2 separate regions of the Homo sapiens genome follow, and region 2 is linked to region 1. Evidence: fine-mapped expression QTL. A gene starts in region 1. The other region holds a variant in brackets. All regions are shown on one strand. Distances are from middle to middle.

What was found. PIP is the estimated chance that this variant, and not a neighbour inherited with it, causes the effect. A credible set is the group of variants that fine-mapping cannot tell apart.
Region 2: its variant is the best candidate, but not a certain one, in a credible set for the expression of CRNN in unexposed skin (GTEx, PIP 0.90).

Annotation. Positions count from the first base shown.
Region 1 is chr1:152,411,867-152,417,241 of GRCh38, reverse strand. It overlaps CRNN (cornulin), which reads left to right and starts at 2,979. Exons shown (of 3, transcript NM_016190.3): 1 at 2,979-3,028; 2 at 4,996-5,146. The coding sequence starts at 5,009.
Region 2 is chr1:152,440,359-152,445,733 of GRCh38, reverse strand. No RefSeq gene overlaps it. Among named protein-coding and RNA genes, the nearest start is that of CRNN, 29 kb to the right of the region's middle. The variant T/A (reference allele first, on the strand shown) is at 3,377.

The sequences.
Region 1 (5,375 bases):
GTTGCTGATCCAGCACCTGGTCTCACTGCCCTCCAGCATACCCGTAAAATGTAACTGCTAAGTAGACTCACTAATGTCAACTTAAATAATAACCACAGTGAATCTCTCTTAAAAAAAAAGTTACCTATTTGAGAATAGGGCATTGCAATGGGAATACATGTGCCATAGTAAACTACGTGCATATTCAGGAGGTAAAGGAAAACAAAAGTTCTTACAGGAAAAACAATGAAAATTACATAATTTTATTGAAATGTGTATTCTTGGCTACAAAGATCAATAACAATGGTGATGCTAATATGAAGTTGGACAGGCAGCTGCTGGACTGATGTCCTCACAGAAGTGTTTGTTGTGTAAGGCTATTATGGCCTTTGTGTAAGGTTGTGGTTTTTGCAGTCTTTTGTGATAGTTGTGTTATCAGGTGTACAAGCATGAGAACTCTCTCTTCGCAGCCTTCCTTAGCTCTATATTTGTCAAGGATTTTTTTGAAGACAAGTGACTCCATTTTGATTCTGACAACTTGCACACTAACTTATAACATCTCCTCACCAACTTTATAAACTAACAAACTTACACAGTCAATTACAGGCTCAGTCCCAATCTCTGCCAACTCATCTCCCCCAGCCCCACCTGCACACTTCAACCCACCTCCACTGGCCCAGCACACACATACAGTTCTTTAACCTCTACTTCTATGGTGCCCCAGCTCCTCACAGCTCAGTCCTGCCCCAGGCACACATAAAGACCTATTAGGCTTTGGAGGCAGGCAGACCTAAGTTCAAATTCAGGTCTAACTTCCTAGCTATGTGACCTTAGGTAGTTTACTTAAGTTTACTTACTTACTCTCTGTGCCTTGGTTTCTTCATCTATAAATTGGGTTAATAATACCTACCAAATATTCATCTTCTAGATACAGCCTCTGGCTTGTTACTTCCCTAACTTACCCTCAGTTCCCAAACCTTTCTGGAAGTTCTAAGCCCCATCAGAAAAAGCTTCAAACACCACCACAGAAGAAGGTCTAATCGGCTCTCCCTCTTGTTCTCCAACTTCACCCTCTCATACTGGCCTTCTTCTAACTCTGATCAGGCAGAAGCAACCTCAGCCCCCTCTTGCTCCCAAAGGTTGAAGCCCCTACTCTGCTTTTCCCTGGCTGGTATGCCTACCCCACCTTCACCCCAGGACTGGAGCCAACCTGTCCCCATGTAGACAGATCTCTCCAAACACAAAGCCTGCATCCTGCCCTCCTGCAGTCTGGAACTCCCCAGTGCTCTGTGCCCTGAGGGGAAGTGCTGGAGGCTGTGCTGTTGCTACAGGGCTGCCCTCAATACACCAGTCTCTTCAACCAAGGCCCTTACCATGCCTTCCTATCCTGTTGTTCCCTTTCCTGTCTGTTGCATGCTGATCTATAAGTGAGGATGGTAAAGATGGCTTTCCCTTCCAGAGTCACTCAGGAAGCTACACAGTATATATTATCTGCAAAGTGCCACTCAAGAGCACTCTTTGGGACTTGGCTTCTGAGCTCAGAAAACTTCCTCCTCAGGAATGGTTCTTCATGCATTGAGGATAAGTGTGATGTTCATAAGGTGCCAAAACTCAATGAGAGAAGAATAAATGGCAGCATGGTGCAACAGAGAGAACACAGGCCTGGAGTCTGAGGGGCTCTAGTCCAGCACCGTCTCCGCTTCACAGAGTGGCTACTTCTCTGAGGATTTCTCAGTGTTCTCATTTATGAATTGGGCTTAGCCATACCACCTCAGAGGATTGCTAGGGAGATCAAATAAGATGAGATGGTAATGAAAATGGAATAAAATCAAATGAAATGAAATGGCAATACCATTATCATTAACCTCTTGGGGACTTACCCCTGGGATGGCCAGGCTATAGACTTCATGAGAGTTGAAACTGCTGCCATCGTATTCAACACTGTATTCCTAGGGCCTTAGCCCTCTGCCTGAAATGGAGCAAGCTTTCCATAAATATTTGCTGATTAGCCACCAGTTGAGTTTCCTGTCCTTGCAATGAGGAGTTACCACATGATCATGGTAAGCCTTTTTTCTCATCAGCTACAAAATGCTACCTACCCATAGCATGGGGTGGGGAAGGTATTAACTTTTTTTGTTTTAATTAAAAATGAGACCAACTTTAAAGAGATGAAACTGGCTTTCTTGTGTCTCATACACTAGGTGTGAAAGGCACTTACAAAACAAGAATTCAAAAAATGTTCTAAGTAATAACAGTTCTAAGTAACATCACCACAAAAACATGTGTGCCCTCTCAGAGTGGCTACTTTGTAAAAGTTAACCTCAATAGATATATTCTTGAACATTTATATTAAAAAAGGAAACAGTGGCCAGGCACGGTGGCTCACACCTATAATCCCAGCACTTTGGGAGGCAGAGGCAGGTGAATCATGAGGTCAGGAGTTCAAGATCAGCCTGTTCAACATGGTGAAACCCTGTCTCTACTAAAAATACAAAAATTAACTGGGCATGGTGGCAGGCACCTGTAATCCCAGCTACTCAGGAGTCTGAGGCAGGGAATTGCTTGAACCCAGGAGGCGGAGGTTGCAGTGAGCCAAGATCGCACCACTGCACTCCAGCCTGGGCGACAGAGCAGGACTCCATCTCAAAAAAAAAAAAAAAAAAAAAAGGAAAGAGTCCCATAACTTTGTAGGCTCATAGAGACAAAGAATGTTCACCAGGACCCCAGCCTGTACCAAGCACTGCTGAGCCCATCACAATGGAAAGAAGCTTCCCTGTCAAGAGGACTCAGCTACAGAAGGTACCAAATGTGGTAGGAGGGGCCTGTTAATTAGACCAAGGCAGTCACACATCAGCAGGTAAAACAGAGACAAGAGGAGGTGTGGCTGGGCTGGGCTGGATCTTGGATGAATCAAGCCTTCCCATAGGGCAGGATATCCTGTCTAAAACAAGAGCCTTGGTTAAAACCCCTATAAAAGGTTCTCATCACACTGACCTGGTACTCCTCACACCACTTAACAGCCACTTGTTTCATCCCACCTGGGCATTAGGTAAGTCCCCTCATAAGAAACCTCTTTCTCATTCTCAGTGTCTTGGTGATCTGAGCTCATAAAACTGGGGCAGTCAGGTATGGACTATGCATCCTTCAGAGCTAGCTGTGAGCACTGGGCAAACCAACGCTACCGTTGGGAAACATGCTCTCCTGAAGCAATCAGGCTTTCTCCTCCTCCCTGAGGCTGGCCTGGGAGCAGCTCCTCTCACTGGGAAACTGTGTGGGCAGCGGCTATGGGGCCACCCATGTGCCTTCCTGGATCAGCAAAGGTTTCTTTTTTCTAAGGCTCTGGAAGCTTCTTTGCAGTGCTGAGAGTCTATGGGATCAGAATCAGTTTACTTATGCCAACCTAGACAATAAGATCAAACTGTGTCATGGATGAAGGGGTTTACATGATTCCCCTCTCCTACACCAGGGTGATATTTAGGCAAAATATGTGTAGATTTTTCTAAGGAATCTAAAATGTAACTAAAAGGTCATCTTATTATTTTATTATCTAAAGGTCAGTGGTTAAAGTCTGCTACATGGTTTTAAAAAAAAAGAAAGATATTTTTCATCTATGTTGAGGAAAACATCCCCAGTTTTTTACCTTGATGAAAAGTTTGCCTGAAATTGTTGGTTACCAGGTCCTAGAAAGGGTTTCTCCTGAACAGCCCACCTTTTGCTATGACTTACTGAGTCCTCATGGCCACACTAATCTGCTTTTTCTAGAACTCAAGTCTCCTTCCTTCCTTTTTTCTCTTTCTTCTCCTACCTATATCTGCCTCGTCCCATCCTCTCTCTGGCTTTCCAGCTGCTACAGGCTCCATCTCCCCTTGCATTTGAGACTTGTCATCTTTGATACCATCTCCTCCTTTGGGTCTCTCCAAGGCTTCTGCTTAATGAATCTTCAAGTCTCTTTTCCTTTTGCTCATGCAACCAAACCCAGGCCTCACCTCAACCTACCTCTAGATTTCTGGCTAATGAAAAAGAAAAGCTTTCCCTTTGATTAGGAACCAACTCATAGGTCACCAGAAATCTGGGCCTGATGGAGCCACGTGCCTGTTGGGCAAGCTGACTTCTCTGATAAGTCTCAGGGCTGTGGACAGAGGCGACATGCAGAGAAACTTGGACCCTCAGAACTGGAAGGCCTCCCACCCAAAGAAGGTTCCCCCCTCCTGAGCATTCCCAGCAGGTGGTAGCCCAGTTTCTTCCCACTTTCCCAAAAAAAACAAGAAGGGAGGGCTGTGTCCCTGGAATTTCTGCTTGGCTCCCATCCAAGACAGGGGTTGACTCACAGATGTATTTACTTCCTTTTGGTGTTCCCGATGGGACCCTAACACCCTTGTGATAAATAAATAAATCCTGTCCACAGGGTACATTCTAGAAAGCCCATTGCATTTGGGTTAAGGAAAAATGGATCCTAGGATTTCTTGGCTCCTTAAAAATTGTGTGGCCTAACTTCTCTGAGCCTGTTTCCTCACCTATAAAAAAAAGTGGAAATAATAAGGATTAGAAGAGATGATGTACAGGAAAGTGATTATATAGGTGTACAAAAATTATATGTGTGTATATGTATATAATAGCATAATAATTATATTTAATAAGGAGCACTTAATATAAGCCAGGCATCTGCCAAGTGCTTTTTATGAATTATGTCTTTAAATCTTCACAATAATCCCACAGAGTACTAATATCACCTTCAATTACAATGAGTAGTAAACTGAGGCATGGAGAGGCAAAGCAACTTGTCCCAGCTCACACCATACTTAAGTGGTGGGGCCAGCATTTAATCCTGACTCAGGAACCTGCCTCCATCCTGTGTGCTCCTCCTTCCCATACATAAGATGCATTATGTAGGAAAGGACAAAGGAAAACTAAAAACAGAGCTGAACGTGCAAGGAAAGACCTAGCAGCAGACGTGCTATAAAGGAAATAGCTGAGGTTGATTATGGAGCCTCCAAGGGAACTTTTCATCTTTTCCAGGTTGACTTCAAAGATGCCTCAGTTACTGCAAAACATTAATGGGATCATCGAGGCCTTCAGGCGCTATGCAAGGACGGAGGGCAACTGCACAGCGCTCACCCGAGGGGAGCTGAAAAGACTCTTGGAGCAAGAGTTTGCCGATGTGATTGTGGTACGGTGTGCTGAGCCGGGTGGAGAGGGGACATAGCAGGAGAGTGAAACCTGGTTTGCCTGCAGAGGCCTTGCCTGGGGAATTTGAGGAGGCAGCAGCTAAACCCAGGCCTGCCGGGACAGATGGCAGCTGTGCAGGCAGAAAAAAAGGTGAAAGAACCAGAGATGGTCATGGGAGTTGGCAAGTCCTGGCTCTTTAGATTAAAACCTTGGTTTTAATTAATTCTAAC
Region 2 (5,375 bases), 28 kb before region 1:
ATGCACCACACATTGTGCCAGATGCCGTAAATAAGGGAGAGACACAAATTATGCAAATTTGTGAGCCCCTGGTTTCTCATCTAAAATAAGGTACTAGCTACTTCTTAGAGATGCTGAAAGAATTTTATGAGATAATATGTGTAACTGTAGGCTACTTATTATCATTGTTATTAATAGAAGTAACATGACATCAGTATGTGTGAAAAGCCATACAATTATTTAAATCTTGAACTCAATATTTATCTTAATACATTTACCCTAAAGAAAAGCTCATATATGAATCTTTCATACTTTTCTTTATTTATATAAAGGGGCAGAACGGGAAGGAAATAAAGTGCCGACCAAGTATATATAATTTGAAGGTAGTGGGTGAAATACTTTACATTTGTTAATTCATAAAAATGAGCAAAGGAAAAACTACAAGCAACCTAAATATTCAGCAGTGATATAATGAATGGAATATTATACAGTCATTTAAAGTAATTATAAAGACTATGTAGCAATATAGAAAAATGCTCATTATATCATATTAGGTAGAGAAAGCAGGTTACTGGGTGTAGGTATGCAGATGCTGATTGCAGTTGTGTAAGGTCCATATGCATGAGCACAGCCACACACTAAAGTCACCACTTGCTCTAGAATCACGGGCGTGTGGTGATCCTTTGCTCTCTTATCTGTCAAACTGTTTGTGTGTTGTTTCATTGTTTGTCACATTATTTTTATAGGCATGCTTTTCTTGAGGTGCCCTCTTTGTCAGTATTTCCCTCTCTCCCATATGGCCTACCCATCAATTTTAAAAGGGAAAAATAAAGATATTTTCATGCTTGAAAGTCTTGGCAGGTAGCAAACTTTTGAGGAGGCATCAGTTGCATTCACTTCATTGCTGTTTTCTGAAAAATATATGGAAGAGTTATGCTTTGCACATAGCTTTTCAACTACACATAGCAACCCTTCAAAAATTGCTCTCAGAAATTAAAAACAAACGCACTACTGCAGTAGAATCCCCCAGCAGCACCCACCCGCACTGTCCTCGGAGGGCACACTTTATGTCTCTAGGACACAAGCCAGCACAGGTTGGCTTTCTATCCATTCATCCATTTATTCTACCATCCATATGTCCATCATTTGATGCTTCACTGCCTGTCCATCCACCAAATCCATCCCTCTGTTTATCCATTCATTCAGCCATCCTTCCTTGAAAGGTCATCACCACAAAACTCCCTTATAAGAATTAGAGATTTTTTAAAATGTTTCTCATCTTCATTTGGCTACTCATCTGAAAAGCCAAGGTCAAGGTTACTAAATGGGGTCAGTGAAGCAACAGGACGTGAACCCAGGAGACGTGCTTCTCATCTTCTCCCAGTCCATGGTGGGCAGTTCAGCAGCTGTTTCAGCCACTGGGCAGCCTCCCAAGGCCCATTTTGGGAACAATGAGTCCAGTAATCAGGCCACTATTTGTCATCAGGGCCCGCCCTTGTCACAGCAAGGTTGCTGGCTGGAGCAGAATCTTCAAGGCATTTCAAGCATTTACCACCTAAATCTGTCACATATTAGCCCTGTAGGTGGAGTGGGAGAGGCCGTGCAGTATGACTTGTCAAGCTGCCAGACAAAACCTGCTTCAGTCAATTAAATAATGGGCTGTCATTACAGAAGACTGGATTGTGACCTTCTCAATCAAGTTCTAATTGGGGTTGATGAGGACAATCTACCCTGGATGTTCTTATCTTCCATCAGACCATCACTGTTTAGAGTCCTCCTTTCATCCCTAAAATGGGTGTAGATGGGAAAACTGAGCCTGCATCTGCAGAGAGATGGGGATGTGTCCCTAGAGCAAATTTAAGAATTAACAAACACTTAATTGTATGCTCTACGTGAGATCCAGTACCAGATGCTGAGAATCTAGATGCTGGGACAGACCAAGCACATTTCCTGCCTGTGAGGAACACGCAGACCTAGTGAAGAAAACAGTTACCATCAGTGTGGACAGGGCCATAACAGCAACAAGGACAGGGTGTGATGAAAGCACCCACATGTGTCTAGAGAGAATCCCAAAGGCTTCAAGGAAGGGGCATTGGAACTGGGCCTGGACAGCACACACAGACATGCCTGTTCCCTGCTAGATAAACTCAAGAGACACATGGAGGAGCAAGGAGAGGGCCCACCGCAGCTCAGGGGCAGCTGGCAGCTTACATGGGGTCTCTGGGACAGCAGCCACTCTCTTGCACAGTGTGGCACAGATTTGAAAATGTGAGCCACAGAAGGTCCTGCTGATTGTTTCCAGGATACACTTTAAACCATCATAACTCCAGATCGCTGTTTTTATTCATTTTTCCTAGAATAGATTCTTCTCACCTCACCTACCCCTGAGGCCCCACAACCTACTACTATACCCTACTCACTTTTCAAGGCCCACCTCTCAGGTCACCTCTTCTATGAAGCCTTCCTGGAGACTGATCCACTCACAGACGCCTCCCTTTTTGCCCTCCCAGTGTTTTGTATCTAAGTCCAGATTAAATTCCAGTTAGTTTGTGGAGCCTGTCTCCAGGGACCTCCATCTTTGCATCCCCAGTGCCTGGTACACAGTAGGTACCCAACATCTGACTGCTGACAGACCAACCCCTCCCAGGATTGACTCACGCTGAGGTGATCCAGAAGCACCATCCAAACCCACTTCCCACAGGGCTGAGCTTGTTGTCATGGCAGGAAGCCACCAGTTAACTTGAGAAAAACCAGCCTGTGGAATTCTGCCAGTTCCCCAGCCAGTATGCCCCAGAGTAGCTGCCACCCAAAACCCATGCTGTATTTTCTAATGTTTACAGGAAACTTGGAGCTCACAGAGCACCAGTCAACAATCGGCCACCCAGCGAGCATGGGCTGAGCCCCCACTGTATGGGAGGCACCCTAGCACCAGTGACCCTTTAGTGGCTGGGAAAGGAAGTGGGAGGAACCTACTAGTCATCAAAGATGAGATTAGGTTGTTTATTTTTAATTAATTCAAAAGTAATGTGATTGATGTTATCTTCATTATATTCTTTCCTGACTTTCCCATGCTGGGCCTCTCTTACTAGTATAGCAAGATTTTTTTTTTAAGAAAAATTTTAAGGTAGTCTGAGTGGAAAAGCAAGGAGATCCTGAGTATGCAGGGAAAAGAAAGGGGTCGCCAGTGCACTGAGCGGGAAGAGGGTGTGGGACTGCAGAGGTCTCTGAGGGCCAAGGGAGTGACGTTGCCAGCAGCCCAGGCCGCACGTGGCCAGCCTTCTTTAGTTGCTTTCTCTCCCTGCCCCAGCTCACCTCTCATCCAACTCAAACTCTAAGCCTGGGCCCTTCGGGATTTTCTGTATGGTTCGTTATCTTGCACTGCGTGGGAACAAATGAT[T/A]CTGCCTTTGTGTTCAGAAAAAAAAACAGGAGTGGGGGTGATTTTTTTCAAAGGAAACTTTATTTGGAAAACCAAAAGAAAAGCAAAACAAAAGAGAGCCACCAGGAAGGGGCTGAGGTAGAAAACTGTACCAAGCACAGAGTCCTTATCCTAAACCATCTGAAGACCAACTGTCTTGGCTGACATGTGGACCCAGGACCCAGCACCCATCTCTGCAGAGATCCTTTGCCTGGCCCCCAGGTGCTGCCCCCACACATTTACTGGCACAGTCTGGGGAGGTGAAAAGAAAACACATTTGCTGTTTCTCACCTGGGGGCTCTGAACAGAAGTCAGTTCTACCTACCCATTCCCCACTGGCAGCATCCCCAGTCAGTCCTTGGTCTCCCTTCCAAGCCAGTGTCTGCCAGCAGGAGAGCTGACTGGATTTTTCTCTCCTCCTGCCTCCCTGTACTCCTACCAGGAGGTGCCAGGGCTGGATTCCCCTGGTCTTAACCTGCTCTCAGGAGCCCTCACTGGTGCATTTCTCTGGTTTCCGTTCCCCGTTTTAGCCTCTGGTCAGCAGGCCACTGGGCCTGTCACTGGCCATCTTGGCAGTCATCCTTGTGGACTTTCCTCCCCAGACCCCCTAAGATCTGGTGCCAGTGCCTGTCCTGGCTCTTGTGCAGGACTTTCTAGAGCTTGTCTCACTGGCAAACTCTGCTCAAGGCCCAGCAGGCACTGCACACATCTGGGCAGTGGTGGTTGTTTCTCAGCTCCCAGCCTAACCCTGTAACTTAAGGTCCGCTGGGCACAGGTCCCTATCGTTTAGCTCTGCCCAGAGCCCCACTCGTCATGGCTACTCTGCCTTCAGCTGTTCCCCTTCCTCCTGATGTGAAACTCAGTGCTCCCACCCCACCCCCACCTCCCAAAGTATGAAGATCCCTTTTCAAATCCCAGCTCTGCCATCTAACAGGCTACTGACTTGAACAAGTCTTTTGAACTTTCCAGGGAGAAGACACGTCTGTAAAATCGGGAAAACCATAATAATTAACCCAAAGGATGGCATGAGAGAAAATACAGGTAAAAATGCCTTGTAACTGTAGCCCTGTGTGCAGGTTGTTTTGTTGGCCTCTGCCACCGGCTGATCAGTAGCTTCGCTGTCTGTCTTCACCACCTGAAACACATTCTCTCTCTGGTTCAGGACGGTGCGCTCCTCTCTGAATTCTGGCTTCTTTGCAGGCTTTCGGTTATCCCTCTGTCACCTATTTGCTGCTCAGTTAGTGGCATGCTAGGCCTTCCTGCTACACGTTGACTTGAACACTAGGTGGCAGCCTGACCCATATCTTGCTGGGGTAACTCGGCCCTCTGCCGGGATGGGAACCGAGACTCGAGGCTTCCACCCCAGCTACCCTTACAGCTGCCACACTGCCTTTTCTTTCATGGCTGTTGGCAGCAGAGAGCCAAGAAAGGCTCCCCGTTGCTAAACACAGGCCGAAGCCTTGGAGATGAAGGGAGATTTGAGCTGATCTGAAGTCAGCTCTTCTACCAGCTGGGGCTTCCTTTGTAGAACAAAGACTTGAGACAGCCTTTGGTGGAGGGTGAAAGAAGCTGAGGCCTGGGCGGTGGCGGAGGACTTAGCATGGTGGTGACCTTTTAGCCCAGAAGGCTGCTTTGCCGACTGGGCCTGGAGTTTCCTGTGGACCCTGTGGCCCAGAGGACCTGCTGGGATCCCATTGCATTGGAGGATACAGGCTGATGTTTACCTTTCTCTACTGACTCCTTTCCCTCAACATGCAAGCATGATCAAGCCTTTCCCATTTTAAAGTAATCTTCCAACTTACCTCTCCTTTCATCATCCTCTCTCTTTGGCCTTACCATCTTAGCGAAATTTATTGAAAAGTTATCTTTGCTCTCTCTTTCTTCATCACCTCCCACTCACTTGTTAGCCTACGGCATTCTGACTCTCTTTCTCCTGCACTTCCAGGTCTGTTACTGAAACAAATTTGGGGTCCACCCGCCC